Homo sapiens: one gene and its partners. The protein of the gene in region 1 purifies or fractionates together with the protein of each later gene. This does not show direct contact. Each region holds a gene or a part of one and is shown in the gene's direction. Other genes may lie near its edges.

Region 1 (3,748 bases):
ACCCTAAGACCCAGAGTGTAACCTGGGGATGGGTGTCTGAAGAGGAATAAAGTGAAATCATTATGATTGAATAATTTAGAACTCTGGAGGCTGAAAAGCTAATGAAATCTCCTAGGATGTTCTACGAGGATGGTGGCCCAGGCACGAGAGTAGGGAACGGGGTCAGGCCTTATGATGGATACTTTAAATACAAATAGTTAGAGGTCACACTAATATTAGCTTGAGGTGTGCAGAATTTTAATTGGGTGCAGATTAGTGTATACATTAGAAATAAGCAAGATATTAAAAGATCAAATTTGCTGAAACACATCAGATAACATTATGATAAAGGTATTTGGAGTTTTATTTGAGTTAGATTTACAATCCCATTGTAGCATGGATCAAAAACAGTAAGTTGATAAAGAAATCAGATAAATTTTCACAATTTAAATTTTAATTGTTTTATTAAAAAGCATTTTGGAAAGACATTCATATTTGGTTTTGGATAGGTTAAAGCTCAGTGATACCATTTACATCAATTTTTATAGCATTTTAGAGAGCATGGTCTTGTGACATCTTAGGATAAGTTTTCTGTTAGTCACAGCATGCCAACAAGTACCTTGTGCTCCATTCTCTGGCCATGTTTTCAGACTCAGTAACTTCAAATAAAATAAACTGCCAAGTTGAGAAATTAACATTTGATAAAGTTTTTGCAACATCATACCATTGAGCTGGTGGATGTGGCTTAAGCATCTGAATTCATTAGAGACTATTGAAATGATAATGCAGAATTATACAGGTTTTGCAGATGTAGTTCAATATTTATCTATATGTATTGAAACCTCACTTGAGGATAGAAAAATCAAGCAAGTTCTTGTCTTACATTTCCACTCAATAAATGAAGAGGAAGAGATAATGAGAAAGCTATATAATCCTTTAAAAAAAAAATTCACCTTGTTTCTGACTGACAGTAACCCAATTCAGGCTTTTTACTCTTCATAAATGGAAGACAAGTAACCTAGATAGTACTGGCTATCTATAATTAAATATACAATATTGAAATCTATTTGCTTTGTGGAAATTATGTGTTTGTGGCTGATTAAAATATTCAGCTATGTAGGCTTCATCTTTTAGCTCAATAGAAAAATATAAATGACATTGGTGACTGAATTCCTACCAACGTGGCAAAGACATTCCCCAGACATACATAATTCACCTGCTGAATTGGAGATGATTCACCTTTCAGTGACTTCACAGGTGTTAACTTGGCCAAACAAAAAAGGGAAATCATCTTGTATTCATCTTTTGTTCCCTGAGGCAAGTTTTCAGTAAGATTGCTCGGGAAAAATATCACAATATACATATATAAGTCCATAGTATGTCTATTTGAATAATGAATTAGCACCACTGTCTGAGAGGTGAAAACTATTCAATGTATATTTTCTGGAAAATAACTAAATTGAGTTCCTCTTAACTAAATCAGAAAGAGAAGGAATCCTCAATCAGGATTTCATGTAGTACTGTATCACTCAAAGGAAAACTGATTGTATAGTGGTACTCAAATAAAGTGGGTCCAAAGAAAAATTATGAGAGAAACGTACCGATCAGTGATCTGGACCAAACAGACATGTGGCTGTGAAATCCAGGCAGTTGCTTGGTGACGAGGTCACCATCAGATAGTCATGGCTTATGTGCAGGAATGTGAGAATGGCCATGGGGAGGAATGGCCTGGGTTATGGGTCTTGCAGGAGTCCCACTGCTTGTGCCATTGCTCAAACTTCTGACTGCCCTGTGCAGCCGGTGCCAGGTCAGCAGTACTCTCTGCTCTGAATCAGTGTCAGCACTGGTCTCTCTAATGTAGTACCTTTCTTCAAAAAATGCTTTGTGAAGCTGCTGGTTAGCACTGTTCTTACTTCTGTAGTTAATATTCACCACATATTCCCCTTCTTTTGTGGAGAGATAAAGAAATTAAGGAAAATCACTCTCCATAAGTCCACAATCTGAAGACATGGAGGCTGAGGAGGCAGACCTGAATGAATAAGTGGATCATATGATAGGGCTAGATCTTAAATTTGGATACAGGAGACTTAAGGTAAACCACAGAAGCTTGTTGTTTATACATGTAGCTCTTTTGCTAAATATAAATGTGGCATGTGAAGATTAATAAATCTGAATGTAATGTACAGAATGTACTAGAACAGGAAAAAATTGGTGTTTACTGAGAGCTGAAGGTTACATCAAAAATCTAAAAAGTAATATTTTTGCATCATCTTAAAGTTTGCAAACAGTTTTGGCACATACATCATCTCATCTTTGCAATAACCTGTGGGGTAGATACAAAAGATGATGTTATTTTCATTTTCCAGATGAGGAAATAGGAGCCTGTTTCCTGGTCAGACAGGCTTAGTCAGCTGTGAGTGGCAGAGCTGGTGTTCCCACCTGTTACCCTCAACCCCAGTTCCATTGCTCCTAACATGATTGTATCCTGGATAAACATGGTATCAAGAATGGAGAGGCCAAGCGCGGTGGCTCACACCGGTTATCCCAACACTGTGGGAGGCCGAGGTGGGCGGATCACCTGAGGTCAGGAGTTCGAGACCAGCCTGGCCAACATGGTGAAACCCCATCTCTACTAAAAATGCAAAAATTAGATGGGTGTGGTGGTGCGTGCCTGTAAACCCAGCTACTGGGGAGACTGAGGCATGAGAATCACTTGAACCTAGGAGGTGGAGGTTGCAGTGAGCCGAGATTGCCCCACTGCACTCCATCCTGCACAATAGAACAAGACACTGTCTCAAAAAAAAAAAAAAAATGGAGAGTGAAATTTGGGAGGCTGAGGCAGGCAGATCACTTGAGGTCAGGAGTTTGAGACCAGCCTGGCCATCATGGCAAAAGCCTCTCTCTACTAAAAATACAAAAATCAGCCTGGCGTGGTGGTGGGCACCTGTAATCCCAGCTGCTCGGGGCTGAAGCAGAAGAATTGCTTGAACCTAGGAGGCAGAGGTTGCAGTGAGCCAAGATCATACCACTACACTCCAACCTGAGCAACAGAGAGAGACTCTGTCTCAAAAAAAAAAAAGGATGGAGAGTGAGAGAAAACTCAGAGACTTTGAAATAAGAAGTGAAAGAGGCCGGGCACAGTGGCTCACACCTGTAATCCCAGCACCTTGGGAGACCGAGGCAGGCAGATCATTTGAGGTCAGGAGTGCGAGACCAGCCTGGCCAACATGGTGAAACCTGTCTCTACTAAAAACACAAAAATTAGCTGGGCATGGTGGCGGGCACCTGTAATCCCAGCTACTCGGGAGGCTGAGGCAGGAGAATCACTTGAACCAGGGAGGCAGAGGTTGTGGTGAGCCAAGATCATGCCATTGCACTTCAGCCTGGGTGACAGAGCAAGACTCTGTCTCAAAAAAATTAAAAAAAGAAGAAGAAATGAAAGAAACTTGGCAATTGATTGGGTGTTTCTGATAAAGAAACAGAAGAAGGAAAAGGTGATTCCTAGGTTTCTAAAACCTGGAAGAGGTGGACAGTGAGATTATAATATAAGCAGCTGATGTTGGCAACATGCCTACTATGTGCCAGGCCATGTGCCAAGCATTTTGCCATATTGCCTTATTAAATCCTTACAACTCTTTGAAGGTAGATCGCATAATTATTATTCTCATTTTAGAAAAGGGTGTGCATGAAAGTTGCTCTCACTTTTAGAAAAAGAAAAAAATCTTCCCTCCAAAACAAGGCTAAGCTCAACTGGATTCACTGGCCTATG
Region 2 (3,748 bases), on another chromosome or scaffold:
ATCAGTGTTCTGTTCCCTATTAAGGAGTTGATGTCCGATAACGGATTCACGATTTACCCTTAACTAAAATATATCCAGATTGTTAAAGAAGACTTTGATGCCTTAACATAAGGAAGCAACCAATGCTGCAAATAATAGAGAACAGCAATGAAACTTTCAGGGGTGGCTGGGGGGTGTAGGCTTTTAGTTCCAAAAATACACCATAGGCGGCCTACCTCACCTAGAAATACCATCAAACCCACACAGTGGCCATGCCTGACTTCTCCATAACCTGAATCAAGCCAAGTATATATAATGACCTCCGCCGGATACATTCTCTACAGGTGAGTGGGGTAAACTGGCACTGCGGTCCTGGCATGGTGGAGAGTGCAATCACCAAGGTGTCTGGAGCCTTGGAGTCTTAGCTATCAAGAGGTGTAGCTAGCTCCAGCTACATCACGCTCTTCAGGCCTGGTGTCTTCTCTGTAAAACGAGAGGGATGAAACAGATTTTCTATAAGGCACCTCTCGGCTCTAAAATTTAAGATTCCAAAGTGTACTTTACATACATGACAGAATCTTGTGAGAGGATCAACAGCTCTGCCAGGACTTGAGTCTCAAGAGAAAGAATGCCAAATTTAATCCCTTGGGGTGATGCGGGCGCTAACTGTTGAAACATGCTAGGTGCCGTCAGGTTCCAGGTACTACGTTGTGCTATGCGCTGCCTCCGCAACTGGTAACAACTGATTACTCCAAATACTGAGTGCCAGAGAAGACGGTGATAAGATGGGTCAAGCTTCAAAAAGAAAAACCGGATATGCTTAGAACAAGATAAACATAATTTGAAGATAGAAAAGGGGGGGATGTCTTCTTGCCCTAGAAACGAGGTAATCACAAGCTGGGAGTGGAAACAGTAGCCGCAGCGTCCTCCCAGCATCTGGAAAGTCGCCCGCTCGTAAGAGGGGTCGGCGCTACCCGAGGGAGGCCGCAGGCCTACTGGGGTTTCCTGCTGGGGGTCGCACCCGGACCCGCGGCCGGGACGGCTCTGCACCTTCGCGGCACCCCGTGTGCCACCCTGAATCAGGCCCCGGCAGCCGCTCCTACGAGCAGCAAAGGGTGGTTCTGGGTATTGTCGGCCCAGCGCTCACTCGCGGATGTATTTTCCTCCTGTGCCCTGCCTGACATCTCAATCGGACCAAAAACACCCCTCTCCCCAGCTACTTGCATCTGTCCCGCGACTGGTGCAGCTGCAGGCCGCCGCCCTGGGTGGCTCGCGGCAGGAGGGACTGAGCCCGGGGCAGCCCACAGGGGCAGGACCGCGTCGCTTACCCAGATGCCGCCGCGGCGGCAGGCCGACTCCTCCGTGCAGGAGGGGCGGGCTCCCAAGCCGCGCACTGCAAGCAGTGGCGCCGGCTCACGCACCCCTCGGCCGCCTCTCGCGCGGCTTCCCGCGCCGGCAGCCCGCGATGGCCCCACGTGACCGCGTGTCTGGTAGCAGGGGAAAGAGGGGCGCCAGGGCCGGGGTGTGCGTGCGTGCGTGCGTGCGTACGTGCGCGCCCTCCCGCCCGCCCGCCTCAGTGGCCGGGCGGGGGTCGGCCCGCGCTCTGAGTGCCGCCGCCACAGTTCGCAGTTGTGACTCTGTAGGCGGAAGCATAGGGACAAGCCTGAGCGTCACAGGCTCCCCACAAACAACCGCGTGACCCGGGGACTTTCCCCAGGGTGTGCAAAAGCACAGGCACCCCCTCAGTTCTGGGGTGAAGGTGGGGGTGGGGAAGGATGCGCCCGCGTGTTCGCTGGGGAAGGGATGAGGGCGCGGGGCCAGGGAGGCCGAGCCGCGGGAGCCTGGGTGGAGAGGCGGACTGGGCGAGGTGGGGCATGGCGGGGGAAGTGACTCAGGGCCAGAGGCAGCAGGCCCACGGAAGGTGGGGTCGGGGGGGCGCGGGGACTGGGCGACCCTGAACCGACGGGGCAGGGCGAGGTTGCCGGAGCACTCGAGGCGGACCGCGAGTGACGGCCCAGCTGCTGGGCCCAACGGGCAGGGGTCTGACATCTGGACGGAGTGGGAAAGCAGCCTCGCATCCTGCCCTGGGGAGTCGGGAGGAGCCCAGTTCCATCCAGCTGTGCAAACAGGAGGAGGAGGAGGTCCCAAGCCTACCCTTGAGAGGGGCAAGAGGGGTGGTCAAGCCGCCGCCGCCGCGACGGCCCCCGCGGTGCGGGTTGCGCCAGCCTCCTCGGAGCTCGACGCAGAAACTTGTTGCAACAAACAGGCGACCGCGGGTGCCCCTAGCAGCCAGCGGCAGAGTGGGTGGGCGGGCGAGAGGGAGGGGAAGGCTGGCGGACGCCGCAGCGAACTGGTGGGCAGACCCGGAGTCGCCGCGTAAGCGGGGCCGGCTCAGTGCGGTGCGGCAGGCGCGGCTGTGCGGCAGCGGAAGTCCTTTGTTGCAGCACAGTCCCTGGCAGAGCCAGAGCCTCTCCGCGCAGCCCAGCCCGAGCGCCGAGCGCCGCGCGCCGCCGCCACTGCAGCTCGCGGCCCCTTCGCCTTCGCCCGCCTTTCCCGCGGCTGATTTGCCTTAAACTCCCTAAAATCTCCGCAGCTCTGGTTCCTGTTGCGGCCGGTAAGTATTTGCCAGTTGTGGGGCTATTTGCGCAACTTTGGCCCAGGCCGGAGGGCGACGGGCCGCGGGCCTGGCGGAGTGCGGGGCCGGAGGGGCGCCGATCCGTGCGGGGAGCCGGAGCGCGGCGGACGCGCTGCGAGGACCCGGTGACGGGCGGCTGCCAGGCCGCCTGCTTGTTGCCGGCGCGTCAGGTCCCGGGCGTGCGGCCTCCCTGAGTCGGAGGCGAAGCCCCTACGGAGACTAGTTCCCAAATTAGTTACCTTCTTTTCTTTCTTTCTCTGCCTTTATTTTTTTCGAGGGGGGAGGGGAGGTGTAGACGGGAGGCGGGAGAACCCGGTTGATTGACGTGCCTAGAGCCCGCTTCTCTCAACTTACAGCTGCGGCTCGGCGGCGGGTGGGAGGGGAAGTGTCCCGGAGCCCGAGGCTGCAGACTTGGGCGCGCTCCGAGGGAGGAGGCGTAAGATCCGTGCAAATTCTTGTTACGCTGTTTCCCACCCCCTCTCGCCGGCACACACGCTTTTTGTTCAGTAAAAAGTGGAAGGTCTGAGTTTGGGAATTTTAAGTGGAAAAGATCTGTTTCTTGGGAAGGGAGTGCTTTCGCTTGCAGCGGTGGGCGCTTACTAGAAGTTCGGTAAATGTGTTGGATGCAGATCGGGAGTCGTTACTACTAAAGTATGTAGGCAGGGTCTGAGCTCAGCCACCCCACCCAGTCTCCCTTTCTACCTAAGCAACGCGTGTACATGATCTGAAGGGTTGACATGACATTTTCTAAATTGGGCGAATCAGGAAGAGGTTGATGAAAATCCTTGACGTTTTCTGGGGATAGGACATTTGTGTGTGATAACGTTCTTAAGTCGAATTTCAGTGTGGCAGTGCACGCAGATTCTTCATTGGTGTTAGTGTATTTCCATACGGTATGTATCAGTACAAGAAATAGTGTTCCCTTTGACACTCGAACCCAAGGAGTGGTCCGAGGCTTTTTGAGGCAACGTAGGATCAATGTCTCTGAAGCAGATTTGGTGAAGGATGCAGGTCTCATAATTTACAGAGCAATCACAGCCTTCTTTGAAACGGAGAAATTAGATTCTATGAAATTTTGTCAGTGCAGATAGATATGATGTGGAGAAACGGGGAAAATTGAGTACAAAAAGATGA
Region 3 (3,748 bases), on another chromosome or scaffold:
AACTACTGATCTGATTTCCATCACTATAGGTTGTTTTTGCCTGTTTTATAAGTTTAAGACCGGGTGCGGTGGCTCACGCCTGTAATCCCAGCACTTTAGGCCAAGGAGGGCGGATCATTTGAGGTCAGGAGTTCGACGCCAGCCTGACCAACATGGAGGAACCCCGTCTCTACTAAAAATACAAAAAATTAGCTAGGCGTGGTGGCAGGTGCCTGTAATCCCAGCTACTCAGGAGGCTGAGGCAGGAGAGAACCCGGGAGGCGGAGGTTGCAGTGAGCCGAGATCGCGCCATTGCACTCCAGCCTGGGCAATAACAGCGAAACTCTGTCTCAAAAAAAAAAATTAGCAAAAGGCCGGGAACGGTGGCTCACGCCTGTAATCCCAGCACTTTGGGAGGCTGAGGAGGGCGGATCACTTGAGGTCTGGAGTTTGAGACCAGCCCGGCCAACATGGTGAAACCCCGTCTCTACTAAAAATACAAAAATTAGCCGGAAATCCCTTGAACCTGGAAGGGGGAGGTTGCAGTGAGCCGAGATCACGCCACTGCAGTCCAGCATGGGCAACAAGAGCGAGACTCTGGCCGGGCGCGGTGGCTCACGCCTGTAATCCCAGTACTTTGGAAGGCCGAGGAGGGCGGATCACAAGGTCAAGAGATCGAGACCATCCTGGATAACACGGTGAGACCCCGTTTCTACTAAAAATACAAAAAAAATTAGCTGGGCGTGGTGGCGGACGCCTGTAGTCCCAGCTACTCAGGAGGCTGAGGCAGGAGAATGGCGTGAACCTGGGAGGCGGAGCTTGCAGTGAGCCGAGATCGCGCCACTGCACTCCAGCCTGGGCAACACAGCAAGACTCCATCTCAAAAAAAGAAAAAAAAAGAGCGAGACTCCGTCTCATAAAAATAAAAATAAAAATAAATAAAAAATAGCAAAAGACTGAATAGGCACTTTATAAAAGAAGACATACAAATGGCCAATCAGCACATGAAACATGGTCAATATCATTGATCTCCAGACAAATGCAAATCAAATTGCAATGATGTGCCCACAACACCCATTAAATGGCCAACGCTAAAGACTGACAATATCCAACGTTGGCCATGCCATGGAATAACTGGAACCACCATACACTGATTTTGGAAATCTAGAATGGAAAAACCATTTAGAAAAAAATCGTTTGGCAGTTTCTTATAAGTTAAACACACACTGATATGATCGAACAACTCCACTCCCTAGTTACCCAAGATAAAGGAAAACTATCCACGCAAACTTACAGGAATGTTTACAGGAGCTAAAACAATGGGCAAAACTAGAAACCCACATGTATATCAAAAGAGAAAAATAAATCTGCTTTTTAAAAAAGATTGAAATATCTTGTATTTTAATACCCGAAAAAATTTTATTTCCCCCTAGACTGCCAATTCCAGCTGAGCAGGCTCTCTAACCATCTTATTTACTACCATACTCTCAATTTCTGGCACGGAGTAAGCGCGCAATAAATGTTTGGTGAATGAATGAAAGAATGCCCGCTTTCATACACTAATGGGTTTGTAGCCACCACCCCTCAGGCCTTTTACGCCCTCATTCCTTCCAGGTACAAACGCTATCTGGGCTAGGCCAAATGTGGCTCGCAGCGGGTCCGGGAGCGGGGCACCTACCGGCAGCTCCCGCAGCGGAGGCGCGTCCCCCGGGCGCCGAGGCAGCGCCCGCGGCTGGAGGGGCCCGGGGCGGGCGCCGAGCCCGAGGGATGCGCGCAGCGCGGGGTGCCCCGGGAGGCAGCGGCCGGGCACGCTGGGACCGACGGCGCGGGACGCCCCGACGCCGGGCAGCACTTACCCGCCGCACCGAGAGAGCTACGCGGCCCCGCGGCCCTGCAGGGCACAGGGCGGCCCCCTGCCCGGGGCTCTCGGTGGCGCACTGGGCGGCGGGGCGGGCCGAGGGCAGCGGGGGCGGGACAGGACAGACGAGAATCCCGCGGAGGTGAGGCCGGGGGCCGCCCCGCCCCCGAGGGCAGGCCCTGAGCCCCGGCCCCGCCTCGGCCGGCCCCGCCTCGGCCGGGGCGTGGGCTCCGGCTGCAGCTCCGGTCTGCTCTCTTGGCTCCGGAACCCCCGCGGGCGCTGGCTCCGTCTGCCAGGGTGAGGGGGCCGGGAAGGGGCGCGCGGGGGTCCCGGGTCTCGGAAATCGGGCGGGGACGGAACGGGCTCGGGCTGCGGGGCCTCCAGACTCAGTCGCACGCTCAGATTTCGGGATTTCTACCCCCGGCTGGGATCGCGTAACTTCCTCATTCCCGCCTGGACCCCTGCCCCCGGCCCGCCTGGCCTGGCGTGAGCCCCGTAGCCGCGCGCTCTCCGGACCACCCAGGGCCGCTTCCCCGCGCAGCTGCTGCGCCGCCCCAGGTCGGAGCCTTCCGGGCCTGGCTGGGTGTTCCCCGGGGCTCTGGTTACGGGACGGGGCGGGGGGCGGGGGGCGGGACTGGGATTGTGGATGAAGGACTAAGGTAGGGGATGGGGGCTCGAAGGGGTCGGTGGGGCGTTGCAAACTGGTCAGGCGTCATCCGCGGGCGGTCAGGAGGCCGTGGGGGAAGAGGAGGATCTGGAAGAGATGGAGGACCTGCGGGAGTTAGGATGGGGGGCGGGTTCTGCAGGACAGCTCGCCTCCCTGAGGCTTCCCAATGTTCCTAGGATGACGGCGACCCCTGAGAGCCTCTTCCCCACTGGGGACGAACTGGACTCCAGCCAGCTCCAGATGGAGTCCGATGAGGTGGACACCCTGAAGGAGGGAGAGGACCCAGGTACACAGGGAAGATGGATGGCCCTCAGGGAGGAGAGGCGTTCGGGAGCCAGGGGGCTGGGGCCTGTTGTGGTCTACACTCCTCGACTTTCTTTCCTCCCAGCCGACCGGATGCACCCGTTTCTGGCCATCTATGAGCTTCAGTCTCTGAAAGTGCACCCCTTGGTGTTCGCACCTGGGGTCCCTGTCACAGCCCAGGTGGTGGGCACCGAAAGATATACCAGCGGATCCAAGGTGGCCAGACTGGCCCCAGGGAGGGGGAAAGGGAGGGCGGCCCGGAATGGATCCAAGGTGGCTGGGCTGGCCCCAGGGAAGGGGCAAAAGGAGGGCTGGCCAGAGTGGGGAGGCGGGGACCCACGCAGGGGACATCCATTCAGTTCCTCATACCCCTAGGTGGGAACCTGCACTCTGTATTCTGTCCGCTTGACTCACGGCGACTTTTCCTGGACAACCAAGAAGAAATACCGTCATTTTCAGGAGCTGCATCGGGACCTCCTGAGACACAAAGTCTTGATGAGTCTGCTCCCTCTGGCTCGGTGAGGGCGACCGGACTGCTTCCTGTAGAGGGCAGGTGCTCCCCACCCTCCTTTCTGTCTGTCTCACCCCGGGGCCACAACCTTTCCTCCCTGCAACTCTGGCCACTGTGCTGCCTCCCCTGACCCCAGTTACCAGGAAACTTTCCCTGCTCAGCTTTCCCTGTCCATGGTTCTGTGCCAGCATCTCAGCTGGGCGGGATGCCCAAAATGCTCTTGGCAGCCTCACCCTTTTCTAGTCTCCATTCCCAGGGTAGGGGGCCTCCGTTTTGCCAGCCTCTAGGCCTTTTGTTTGTTTTTTGTTTTTGTTTTGTACAAGGTCTCCCTCTGTCACCCAGGCTAGAGTGCAGTGGTATGATCTTGGCTCATGGCAACCTCCTGGGCTCAAGCAGTCCTCCCGTCTCAGCCTCCAGAGTAGCTAGGACC

What was found.
Region 2: the proteins of GPR156 (region 1) and ZBTB1 purify together in Homo sapiens (co-immunoprecipitation; 3 studies listed by BioGRID and IntAct, with this or other methods). This does not show direct contact.
Region 3: the proteins of GPR156 (region 1) and PLD2 purify together in Homo sapiens (co-immunoprecipitation; 3 studies listed by BioGRID and IntAct, with this or other methods). This does not show direct contact.

The regions. Positions count from the first base shown.
Region 1 is NC_000003.12:120,194,493-120,198,240, reverse strand, and holds part of GPR156 (probable G-protein coupled receptor 156), read left to right. Parts: intron 1-3,748. UniProt on the Homo sapiens protein: Orphan G-protein coupled receptor involved in the regulation of hair cell orientation in mechanosensory organs of the inner ear.
Region 2 is NC_000014.9:64,502,354-64,506,101, forward strand, and holds the start of ZBTB1 (zinc finger and BTB domain-containing protein 1), read left to right. Parts: upstream 1-2,416; 5' UTR 2,417-2,593; exon of another isoform or gene 2,594-3,507; intron 3,508-3,748. Other genes in the region: ZBTB25 (zinc finger and BTB domain-containing protein 25), read right to left, coding at 548-657.
Region 3 is NC_000017.11:4,805,092-4,808,839, forward strand, and holds the start of PLD2 (phospholipase D2), read left to right. Parts: upstream 1-2,060; 5' UTR 2,061-2,134; intron 2,135-2,680; 5' UTR 2,681-2,681; coding exon 2,682-2,790; intron 2,791-2,892; coding exon 2,893-3,023; intron 3,024-3,182; coding exon 3,183-3,325; intron 3,326-3,748.